3 linked regions of the Homo sapiens genome follow. The protein of the gene in region 3 interacts with the protein of the main gene of each other region in a pairwise test. Each region holds a gene or a part of one and is shown on either strand. Other genes may lie near its edges. The genes, in order: OR52L1, ZNF300 and ALX1.

Region 1 (3,304 bases), on a different chromosome or scaffold from region 3:
TTCCTTGAAAATAGAAATTATATTTTATTATTCCTAGAGCCTATTACCATAACTTCTCCACTTATGTTTGTTTTAAATAAATAAGTAATACCCATATTGCAATAAATGCTGTTTTCTTACACTGCGACCTTCTCAGCTGCTTTGAAGAGACCCTATTGGTAAACAGGAGCCAATGATCTGGGGATCCCAGCACTAACTTAGAGGTTTTGAAGAAACTCTAAACCTAAAACCAACCAAAGGGTGGGACTTTACAATTCCAGACAGTGTTGCATGGCCTACCATTGGGCAAAGGCGAGAAAGATGACACATTCAGAGCTATCATCTATTTCTCCTATCCCCAAGTCCTACTGACACAAGGAGTAGAGAAATGTTGAAATCAAGAGCAAAAGAAAAAATGGCAAAAATATTCACAAATCCAGATATCCAGGTACATCCCAATAAGCCAAGTATCTGTGGGTGTTCTTTAGCATGGCACTAGTAAGACTAGAAGGAATACTCACTGCAAAATGGTCTGTATTCATGTAATCTACACCAGTCACAGGCTCCTGGCTGTGGTCCGCAGAAGAAGCCTCCGAAGGAAACAATGAGAATATGTTCAGATCAATCCTTTTGTGTAAACACTCTGAGCACTCGCTGGCGGATCTGCTGAGTCTTCACTCCATAGACAAGAGGATTGAGCGCAGGTGGCATGAGGAGATACCGTGTGGCCAGAAGAACATGGACATGATGGGGTACATGATGACCAAAGCGGTGAGTGAGGAAGGAGAAAATTCCAGGGACATAGAAGACCAGGATGACACAAATATGAGAGCCACATGTGCTAAACGCCTTAAGTCGGGCCTCACTCCCTGGTACCTTCAGCACTGCCTGGAGGATGTGGGCATAGGAAACACCAATGGCCAGAACATCCAGCCCAATCACAAGCAAGGCCATAGTCAGCCCATAAGCTCGATTGACTGTGGTTTCTGAGCAGGCAAGTTTCACAACAGCCATATGTTCACAATAGGCATGGCCTATGATGGTGGCTTGGCAGAAGATAAGTGTTCCCAACAAAATGGGGAAGGGGATAAGGAGTAGTAATCCCCTCACCAGCACCACCATTCCGATGCGCCCTATGACCCCTGGATGCAGGATTGTGGAATGGTGCAAGGGGTGACAAATGGCTACATAGCGATCCAGAGCCATGGCCACAAGTACCCCTGACTCCATGGAGGAGAATGCATGGATGAAGAACATCTGGATCAGGCAGACGATGTACCCAATCTCGTGGGCATGAACCAGGAGCACTGCAAGGGCTTTGGGTGCAGTGGAGGAGGCCAGAACCAGGTCGATGGCAGCTAGCATGGACAGGAAGAGGTACATAGATTGGTGCAAGGATGGGTCCATCCAGATGATGAAGAGAATGGTAACATTGCCCACTAAAGCAAGGAGGTAAAGGATGCCCAGGGGCAGTGCAATCCAGTGCTGGCTTTCCTCTAAACCTGGAATCCCTACCAGGAGAAAAGAAGGCTGGGATAGCCTCCAGCTTGAATTGCTAAGGAGCATTATCAATGGCTTGGAGAGGAAAGAGAAAAAAGAAACCAAAGTCATGATTTCTGCATTCCTGCTACATTATCACATTGTCCAAATGGGGCAACCATCATCCTGAGAAGAATAAAGTGACTTCAACTGCAAACGAAGGGAATAAAGTTAGCTACAGGGAAGAAAATCTCCTTTGGTGGAGATAATTCTTTTACAAGTGAGACATCCACATGTCTGAATTAATACAAGCTTAGTTTTGTTTAGAGATAAGAGTAAACATAAGCTGCTTTTGGAGAGATGCTTAAACTCTACTATTCAGTTGCTTATATTTTGGAACTGTCAACTTCAAAGAGTTATTTTTATTAGCCTCTTGGTATTACTGACCACTGTGAATCAATCTGTTGTTTTTGAAATTAGTCTTCCTCAGTTTCCATGACATGGCACTCCAGAGTTGTTCCCCCTGTAGCCTTGGTCCCACCATTTTCTCTATCTCATTATGTCATTGATTCCAGGGATCCATCCTCTCCTGTATTCCCTATTCTGTGCATTATCTCTTAATTGACTTCATTTATTCCCATGGTTTTAACTGTTTATATACTTTTATTTCTTCCAAATTTATGTCTGTTTACCCAAATATCCTTCTGAAATATAAATCCATTTTTCCATTTGCTTTATGAATATCTATACACCACATCCTCAACATATTCAACATTGGATTAATTCACCTATTTTTCCCAAATTTGTTCTACTTATGTTTTGGCAATAATTTTTAATTACATCCCTAGCTACCTACACAACCCAATCTAAAAACTTGGAACCTGTCTTTACTCATAATCCTCATCCCCTTTTATTCATTCACCAATTCATGTTGACTTTATGTTAACCCCTCTTATATCCACTCCTTCTTCTCAACCCCCAATATCACTACCTTAGTTTACACCCAACTTCTCTCACCTGGACTATTTCATAACATCTTTCTGCCTTTGCCATAAACACCTTCCCAATTCACTCTCAACCCTGAAGTCATGGGTTTTTTTTCTAAAATGCAGATCTCATCATATCACTCCTAAGATTAAAATCCTTTGGTGAATTTATTGCATGGAATAAAATCATACTTTGAGACTGGCATAAAAGATTATCAAAAGTTATCTTTTTTGCATTACTTTTGTCTTACAGTTGATATATTTCTACATATGTTTTACTAACCATCCCTGCATTCTTGGAGTTACATGTACACACCAAGCTTACCTATGCCTTTTGTGTAGTCTGTCTCCAAATTCCTTTATCTGAATTGGTCCTTCAAAATTCAAAGTCCACTGTCACCCCTCAAAAGGACTCATTGCCTATGTCAGATGAATATTGATTATGTTCAGAGCACTTTATAATCTTCCTTTATTCATCCATAACTTTCTGACTTATCTCTAGAAATTCTATCAGTGTCTTAATGGTTTGTTTTTTTAAAGAAACATATCTTATTATACTTTATAATTATAACATAGCATGGTGAACATTTCACAATGTAGTGAGATAAATAAAAGCAATGGAGGAAGACAGACTTAGTTTAAATTTTGTCCATTTCATATTCTAGGAATAAAACCTTGGCAGGATACTAAAACTCTCTCAGTCTTGATTTCCTTATTTTATAACTAACATCAATCTTACAGGTTTATTGTAAACATTAATTAAGTAATATATGTAAAGTCTTGATATCTAGATTAGTCTACAAATTATAGTTATAATTATTTTAATATTAGCAATAGAAGATGACTGAGAATTAGACCAC
Region 2 (3,758 bases), on a different chromosome or scaffold from region 3:
GCAACTCACCTGGGACTTCATCATTTTTTGCTCTTCCAAAAGGCCAGATGACTGAAAAAGCAAAACTGGTGATCAGAATGTTTTTCATAGTCCAAACCCAGACTGCAGCTTTCACATTCACCAATCTTGCAACAACTAACATCAGAAGTCAAGTAACTAATGGGCTACCCTGTGGGATAAGGTTGTTTGAGCCTTACAGAAGTCTCAGCAGGCACCATGTGGAGGAGGGATCATTCTTTACTCCTCTTGTACCTATAATATGATCACATAGAAGTTGACCAAGGTTTTATAATTGGATAGATGTGAAGATATGTTTCCAGTTGATTTACTAACAACTTACTGTTCCCCTTGGGAATCAGCAATTCTATTTATAGAAGATTTTCATGAGGCAATAATCATGGATAGCTATATAAGGATATAAGTGAAGATGGAGCTCCTTGGCAGTAAGAATGGGAATGACCAAATGGAAAACTGAGGCATGTGTTCCCTATTCCTAAAAAGAACCAGCAGCTGAATTCCAACAATTTTCCAAGAACTCTCTTATATTTTCCCCCAACTTAGAAAACTCTTGCTAAATCAATGTGCATGAACTCAAAGGTTAATTTTAAGATGTTTTCTGTTTAAATTTTTATTGCTCTTTTTCAACAGCTCTATTGTCTGTATACAAAAATGGTGATAGGTTGGAACCACTGGAAAAAAAAAGAGTATACCACAATGCAGGAAGGTAAATACCTGGTAAATTTTCCTCAGTCCCAGGACAAGTCATGCAGACAGAGCTGAACTATTTCAGAGGACGTGGGGGCTCCCATGACAGACAGATTATTTTATATGGGGGTATCAAAACATCTGGAAGGAAACAAAAGAAACAATCATACTCATCTCTGGATATCCCGCAGATGCTCAATAAATGTCTCTTGAATAAAATATAAAATGATTTAAATAAACTTAGAAAGTGGAGAACTGAAATCAAACTTTTAATTATGATTTTATCAGTTTTGATTTGTTTGGTCTTGTTTTAAAATGACCATTTGATGGGGGTACCATCAGAAATGCTTAGTGGGCAATGGTAGACTAAGAAAAGATGTGAAAAGGGGTTGACCTTTAAGAACTCAAACAGTTGCCTATGACCTGTGGAAATTTAACGTTAAGTAAAGGCCTTCCCCAGTAAAATGTGGCTGACCACCATGACACCGTGGCCCCATTACTGTCCCCATCTAAATCTCGGAATTCTCAGGCCTAGTAATCATATACCCTACTGAACTCCCCCATGTCCATCACATCACTGAACACATGGACGCCCCCATCATTTAGTCCATAGCCTCCCATCACTGATTCCTCAGAGTCCCCTAAATCACTGAACCCAGTTAAACCCACCAGTCAGTCCACCTGCAAGCCATTCCTGACCTAATAGACACCCCCTCACCTCTCACTTCCCTGTTACTAATCACATCTCGGACTCCCACATAAATCCAACATTAATCCCACCTACTTCCCCCACCAGTGATTTCATAAACCTCCTACCACTGACCCTCACGGGCTCCTCTCCTCCCATTACCAATCCCACAGACTCACCCTTCACCGCACACATCCCGCCTCTGACTCCCAGCTCGATTATCAGGTCCCAAAACCACCATCACCGCTTAATGGGAACCGCTGTCACATCCCTATTGGCAAACTCTCCTGCTTCCTGTCCGCGAGCACCACACCGGGCTCCCGAGGCTGCGCCGTTCCGTACTGGGCGGTTTTGCCCGTTCCGCATCTTCAGAGGCTTTGTTCAGGAAGCAACATGGCTGCTCCCTGGAGCTGTTTCCGCATGGGGCCGCCATCTTGAGAGCCCGGTCGTCTTCGTACTAGCGGAGGATTCGCCCAGTGCTGAGCCCGAGAATGGGCTGTACCACAGCGGCAGCGAAGGGAGGGGAAGGCGACGGAAAGGAGGCCTGCGAAAGGAGCATTAAGGAGCACACTTTTGCAGAAAGATTTTACAAGGGGGATTGAAGAGGAAGTTGGAGTGAACCTTCCTCTATTGGAAGCATGCTTCTGACGAAAGGGGAGGAATTTTAGATGGTACCATGGACGTGTTTGTGAATGGTACAGCCCCATGCCGGGAGATTCGACTGCTCAGAGGGGAAGCGTGGAATGGTGCGGTCCTCTCCAGGGAGATTTCACTGTGGGAGAGAGGGACAAAATCTGGGGGCTGAACAATCATTGTGTACTGTAATTATGCCAATAACAACGGTAAGGAATCCTTATAAGGGAATTTGATATTGCAGTAATAAGTAATAAGAGGTCGACTGAAGGAAAAAGGGAAATTAAGAGCAGGGAAGAGGAGACTGAGGCACAAAGAGAGGGAAGTGAGAAGCAGAGAATCAGAGAGAAAATGGGGGAAATGGGGACAAAGGAGCCAGCCTAGAAAGGAGGAGAGACGGGAGACTGAAGAGAAAAAAATAGACATAGGAATAGAAGTGGGGATCTAAGGGGTAGAGCGTGGTAGACAGACAGATTGAGACAGAAAAGAGACTTGAAAATTGGAACAGACATAAGGGAGAGACTGAGAAGGTTAGATTTCAGAAACAACAACAACAACATGATTTTTTAAAAATGAACCAGCCAAAGAGAATACTAAAATTGTTATCTTAACCCTTAGACCTTACATCAAGCTTTAAAAAAGCAAAATGCATGTTCACAGACCAATGTTTCATTTGTATAAATGAATACAATTTTGAATCATAATTTTCACACGAGTCATGCTTTTTGATATGTTATGAAATAGGCAGCAATTTTACATTTAGCAATTTATTTCTCATGTCAAAACAAATGCACTTAGATAAGAAGACAATGTATTCAGAAAGAACACTGTTGCATTAGGAAGAATGCTCCAATCTCAAATCTGCAAGAATCACAATATCAACAAAATGACTTTTTTTTTTTTTATAGGGAAGAGTAAGAAGGGTTAGCAGGAACTTTGTAGGGAGAAGGATATGAGATAGGGGTGTGCAGGTGGCAAAACCAGGGCATTTCTACAGAAATTGTTTCTGTTGTCATGGAATTCTGAGAATAAGCGGTTAAGGGGAGATGTTTTGAATCATAGTGCATTAGTGCAGTGTTTCAACTCAGGGGAAGCCAAAATGAAGGGGCCTGCGGGAAGGAGAGAAGTCTGACTAAAGGTTGGTCAAGACAAAGAGGATAAGAAATAGTTGGTTGTGAACACTTAACCTCTTCATCTCTATTTAGACTTCCACAGTTATATCAATATTTATTTCTTGACTTGAGCTTAAGACAGTGTAGACACTGAGTTTAGTGGTAAAGGTATATAGTAATGATTAATTCAGATACCTCACCCTCAAGGAGTGATGCCAGTGGAAGTTGTAGAGTCAGGAAAAGGCCAGACTCTACTACTATTCCTATGCGGAGAGCCTTGTAGGAATTGTAAAAACTTTAGTTCTTCATCTTAAGAATTACGGAAAGCTGTCCTTATGTAGTACCTAATTTAAAAAGAAGATGTTGAAGGAACAGGAAGCCTCCCTCATAATGAAAGGAAGAAAATTAAAGCCATAGTACAATACCATTTCCCATCTATTTGCTTATAAAATATTTTCTAAGTTTGGCAACACTGTTAGGCCATGGGAAATATCATGTGTTACTGGTGGGACAGCAAACTTACAGCCCTCTTTAGAGGGTTTGGCAATATCTAGCAAAACTACATGTATTAGTTATCTATTGCTGTGTAACAAATTACCCAAAACTTAGCAACTTGAAAT
Region 3 (3,758 bases):
TTAATAAAAATTAGAATTTTAGCTAAGGAATATTTGATAAAGCAAATGTGATGTTAAAAGACATCAAACAAGAAAGGTAAACCAGGTTAAAAAAATTACGTAAAAAGAAATGTATTTATGTTAGAAAAGGATCCACAGATTTTACTTTTTCTTGTATCTTGATGTGGTAAGTGATTTTCCCATGAGACAAAATAATTTAATAGAAAGAGGCAGGAGACTTTCGGGAAATACATCTGATACGTCTGAGCCTCTGTTTTCTCATTTATGGAAAACAAAAAGCAATTAGATTATATGATCCTGAATACTCCATATATCTCCACATTGTCATGGATAAGTCTCCTTTAAGAGAATGCTGCAAGTCTGGAAGATGTATATGCCGTAACGTAAACTCAGTCAATCTATAAGCAAATTAATATCTGAGTCTATTAAAACTTATCTTTAAAATATATCACAAAAGTGAAAGCTCTTCTCAGTTGTGCTCATACCTACATAATCTTTTAAAATTTTAAACATAAAGATTACACCTAAATATATGGCAGCAGCAGGAACATCATGATTATCTAGAAATAGGAAAAAATGAGATTACATATTATAATAAGCATGACAAGAATTATAGGTAAAAAGGAATCATCTAAAGTTGAACTATGGTTTTAAAATACGTGAATGTGCTTATTACATACATTATGCAACTTATTTTCCCTTATGAAAATGCTCGGATATCTTTACGTAATTTCTCTAATTTAAAGCACAGGTAATGGAAATAATATAAGAAATAGGGCAGATAGAACCAAGTGTCAAGAAAGTCTATCAGTTACTGTGGCAGCTAAGGTCACTAAGCTATCTTCCACAATTTCTCTAATTACCTATTAGAAGTATTTATTATAAGAACCATCTTCCTCAGCAGGTTGGATATTCATTAATTCATACCTGTAATATTCCAATATCTTCACTTTAATATTAAAGGGAGATGCAGAAGATTATATTCAATATATATACTTGGATGTTTTTAAATGAACATTATAGGAGTAGCTTTTGGGAATCTAGTCTTCTTCACACAATTATGTTCAGAATATAAAATATTTAGGAAAAAGGCTAGAAATCAAATATAAAAAATGCAAGTTGTAAAAGCCTTTTGTTGAAGTTTACTTGAAATTTTCACTCTTTTTCATACTCAATTCTAATCTTGTATATCTTTACCTTCACCATTATGGCAACATATTAATACTCAGTTTAATTTTTTAGTACACATTACAAATTTAAGATGGCACTTTGCAGAGTTTTCAGCAATTGAAATGAGCCAGAGAGCTACATGTTCATTATAGTTTTAGTACACTGCTGATAAATGCATATTATCCATTATGCCAAGGCTCAAGACATCAACAACAACAAAAAACAAATCAAATTTTCTTGCTGTCTCCGCAGATGAGCCCCAGGAACACACTAAGGGAATTTAGTAATACGTTTTTGGGTTTTATTTTTTTTTCCATTGACAAAAAGAACTTGACAATTTCCTTAAAATGAGTAATAGTTACCACTCTTATGTGCAAAGCAGGAAAGAGAACGACCTGAGTAAATTAAGTTCAAGTTGGCTCTCTGTGCATGTTCTCAGACAAAAATTAATCAAGACTTGGTGAATGTTAAGGGGAAAAGATGCATTATGTACAGTTGGTCACTCTGTGTGCAAACATATTTGTTTATGGTTACAAGTATAACTAATTTAAATATAGACAAAGACAAAAATCTCAAACTTACACAGCGGGTGTTAATACTCGACAATTCTAAAATTCTTTGTTAGCATGAACTTTCTACATATTTACTTCCTGAACCAAGATAAAGTAACCATTTGCTTCCACAAACTCAAGTAAAAATCTGCTGCTTGTTATCCGTGTGCCACCAGATGTTGTCTCTAATGATGTAAGAGCCTTACAATTTTAAGAAGAAATACCGTTACTCGATTTAGAACAAAAATTTTCACTATTTTATTCATTCCCCCATTTTAGCAGTTTATGGGAATTGCAAAAATCAATACTTTTGTAGAGGAGTCAGAACACACACAAAGACCAAGGCCATTATCCTGAATTATTGTTGCATTTTAAACTCTTACTACTTGGAAACTAGTAAAATATAGTTTAAGAATATCAAATGTAGTCAAAATAAAGTACTCCTAAGAGGTAAAATTTTACCTGGTATGATTTTTCTTTCTCAAATTATTTTTAAAAATTAAGCATATTGGATCATCCAATTTAATAACTAGAATATATCTTATAAACATAATTGAGTATACACAAAAATTTACTTTAAAGCCATTATTTTTATTGCCTATGCAAAATTCATATGATTTATCTAGACTTTAACCATTATAATGGAATATTTACATGTTGACAACTACTAGGACTATAAAATTGTAAATGAGCACTATTTGATCTTGTTTTTAATTATCCATAGTGAAAACATTCCATGGTATACATAACAATTGGGAATTTGTGGGATTGTTTTTTTTTTTATTATGCCTCCAAATCTAGAAATTTCTAGATGTATGGGCTATTATACAAATAATTTACAAATACCTGATATATAATCTAAAAAAGAACCTTAGTGGCTAATAAAACCGAAAAAAAAAAAACAAATAAATATACCAATTACTAAATAGTCATGATTCTGCTTTTCATCCTTTAAAAACTGCTTTTGAAAATCAGAGATATATTATCATATTGTTATGTTTGAATGATTGTTAATTTTTATGTCTCTGTAATAACTTGTGTTCTTTTGTTTTACATATTGCGTGAGTTGTCAAAATTTTTGCAATTAAAAAATAATTTTAGTAGACATATATTCATATATATTACTCCGTTTCTCATCTTCAGCTAGGGAATCAGTTTGTTTCTTTGTGGCAAAATGCACTTATTCAATTATTCTAACACCATTTATTTTCCTATCCCATCCATCAAGGCCTCTTTTTGGCTCCTACCTGGACCCTGGCCTCAGTGAGCTCTGTCCTCAGAGCAAGCTGTTCTCTGACATACACATCCGGGTAATGAGTTTTCTGAAAGACTTTCTCCAGCTCCTCTAGCTGCAAACTGGTGAAGGTGGTTCGGTGCCTCCGTTTCTTACTGCTGGATACATTGCTATCACATTTATCCCCAAGTTCATCCAGCTCTCCCTTCTCTTGCATCCCTTTCACGGGAGACATTCGGAGACTGTTACAGTTGTCCATAGCTCTATTCAGTTCGGTGTGAAGGGGCTGTCCTTCTACTTTAGTGATCCCATAGTTCACTGTACCCAGAGGAGGAAAAACAACAGTTCTCAGGATTGTGAAACTCATCTCAATTAAATCAATAAGTAGAAGTAATTGAGAGTATCAAGAAATTGGCCTATTAATAATTTATTGTGCTAGTATTAATTCAATTACCACATTTCTATACTTAATTCATTGTAGGACAGGTTTAAATACCATTTTAAAATGTGTTCATGCAACTGCTATGATCTGCCAAAATCCGCAGTTCTATTTTACAGGATTTATAAGTTTATGCACATGTTTTTTACTTAAATTCATGTACTCGAATTAAAAGATGATCTGGGTGTTTCATGAAAGAAACTTTAAGTGTCCATGATTTTTGAAAACTGAAGCAAATTTAATGTCATGTGTTTTATTCACAGCAGATAAAACCAAGCTACTAATGTGGCTCAGAAAATATATTTTAATCTTAAATAATACCTCTGTACTAATATCTGAAAGTTATTATCCTCCTCCACGTAAA

Evidence for each region.
Region 1: the proteins of ALX1 (region 3) and OR52L1 interact in binary tests that used the Homo sapiens proteins (3 or more experiments, as listed by UniProt).
Region 2: the proteins of ALX1 (region 3) and ZNF300 interact in binary tests that used the Homo sapiens proteins (3 or more experiments, as listed by UniProt).

What each region holds. Positions count from the first base shown.
Region 1 is NC_000011.10:5,985,341-5,988,644, forward strand, and holds OR52L1 (olfactory receptor 52L1), read right to left. Parts: upstream 1,646-3,304; 5' UTR 1,591-1,645; coding exon 601-1,590; 3' UTR 552-600; downstream 1-551. UniProt on the Homo sapiens protein: Odorant receptor.
Region 2 is NC_000005.10:150,903,132-150,906,889, forward strand, and holds the start of ZNF300 (zinc finger protein 300), read right to left. Parts: upstream 1,850-3,758; 5' UTR 1,573-1,849; intron 847-1,572; 5' UTR 733-846; intron 253-732; exon of another isoform or gene 219-252; coding exon of another isoform or gene 198-218; intron 187-197; exon of another isoform or gene 52-186; coding exon of another isoform or gene 25-51; coding exon 10-24; intron 1-9. UniProt on the Homo sapiens protein: Has a transcriptional repressor activity.
Region 3 is NC_000012.12:85,283,087-85,286,844, reverse strand, and holds part of ALX1 (ALX homeobox protein 1), read right to left. Parts: intron 3,274-3,758; coding exon 2,969-3,273; intron 1-2,968. UniProt on the Homo sapiens protein: Sequence-specific DNA-binding transcription factor that binds palindromic sequences within promoters and may activate or repress the transcription of a subset of genes.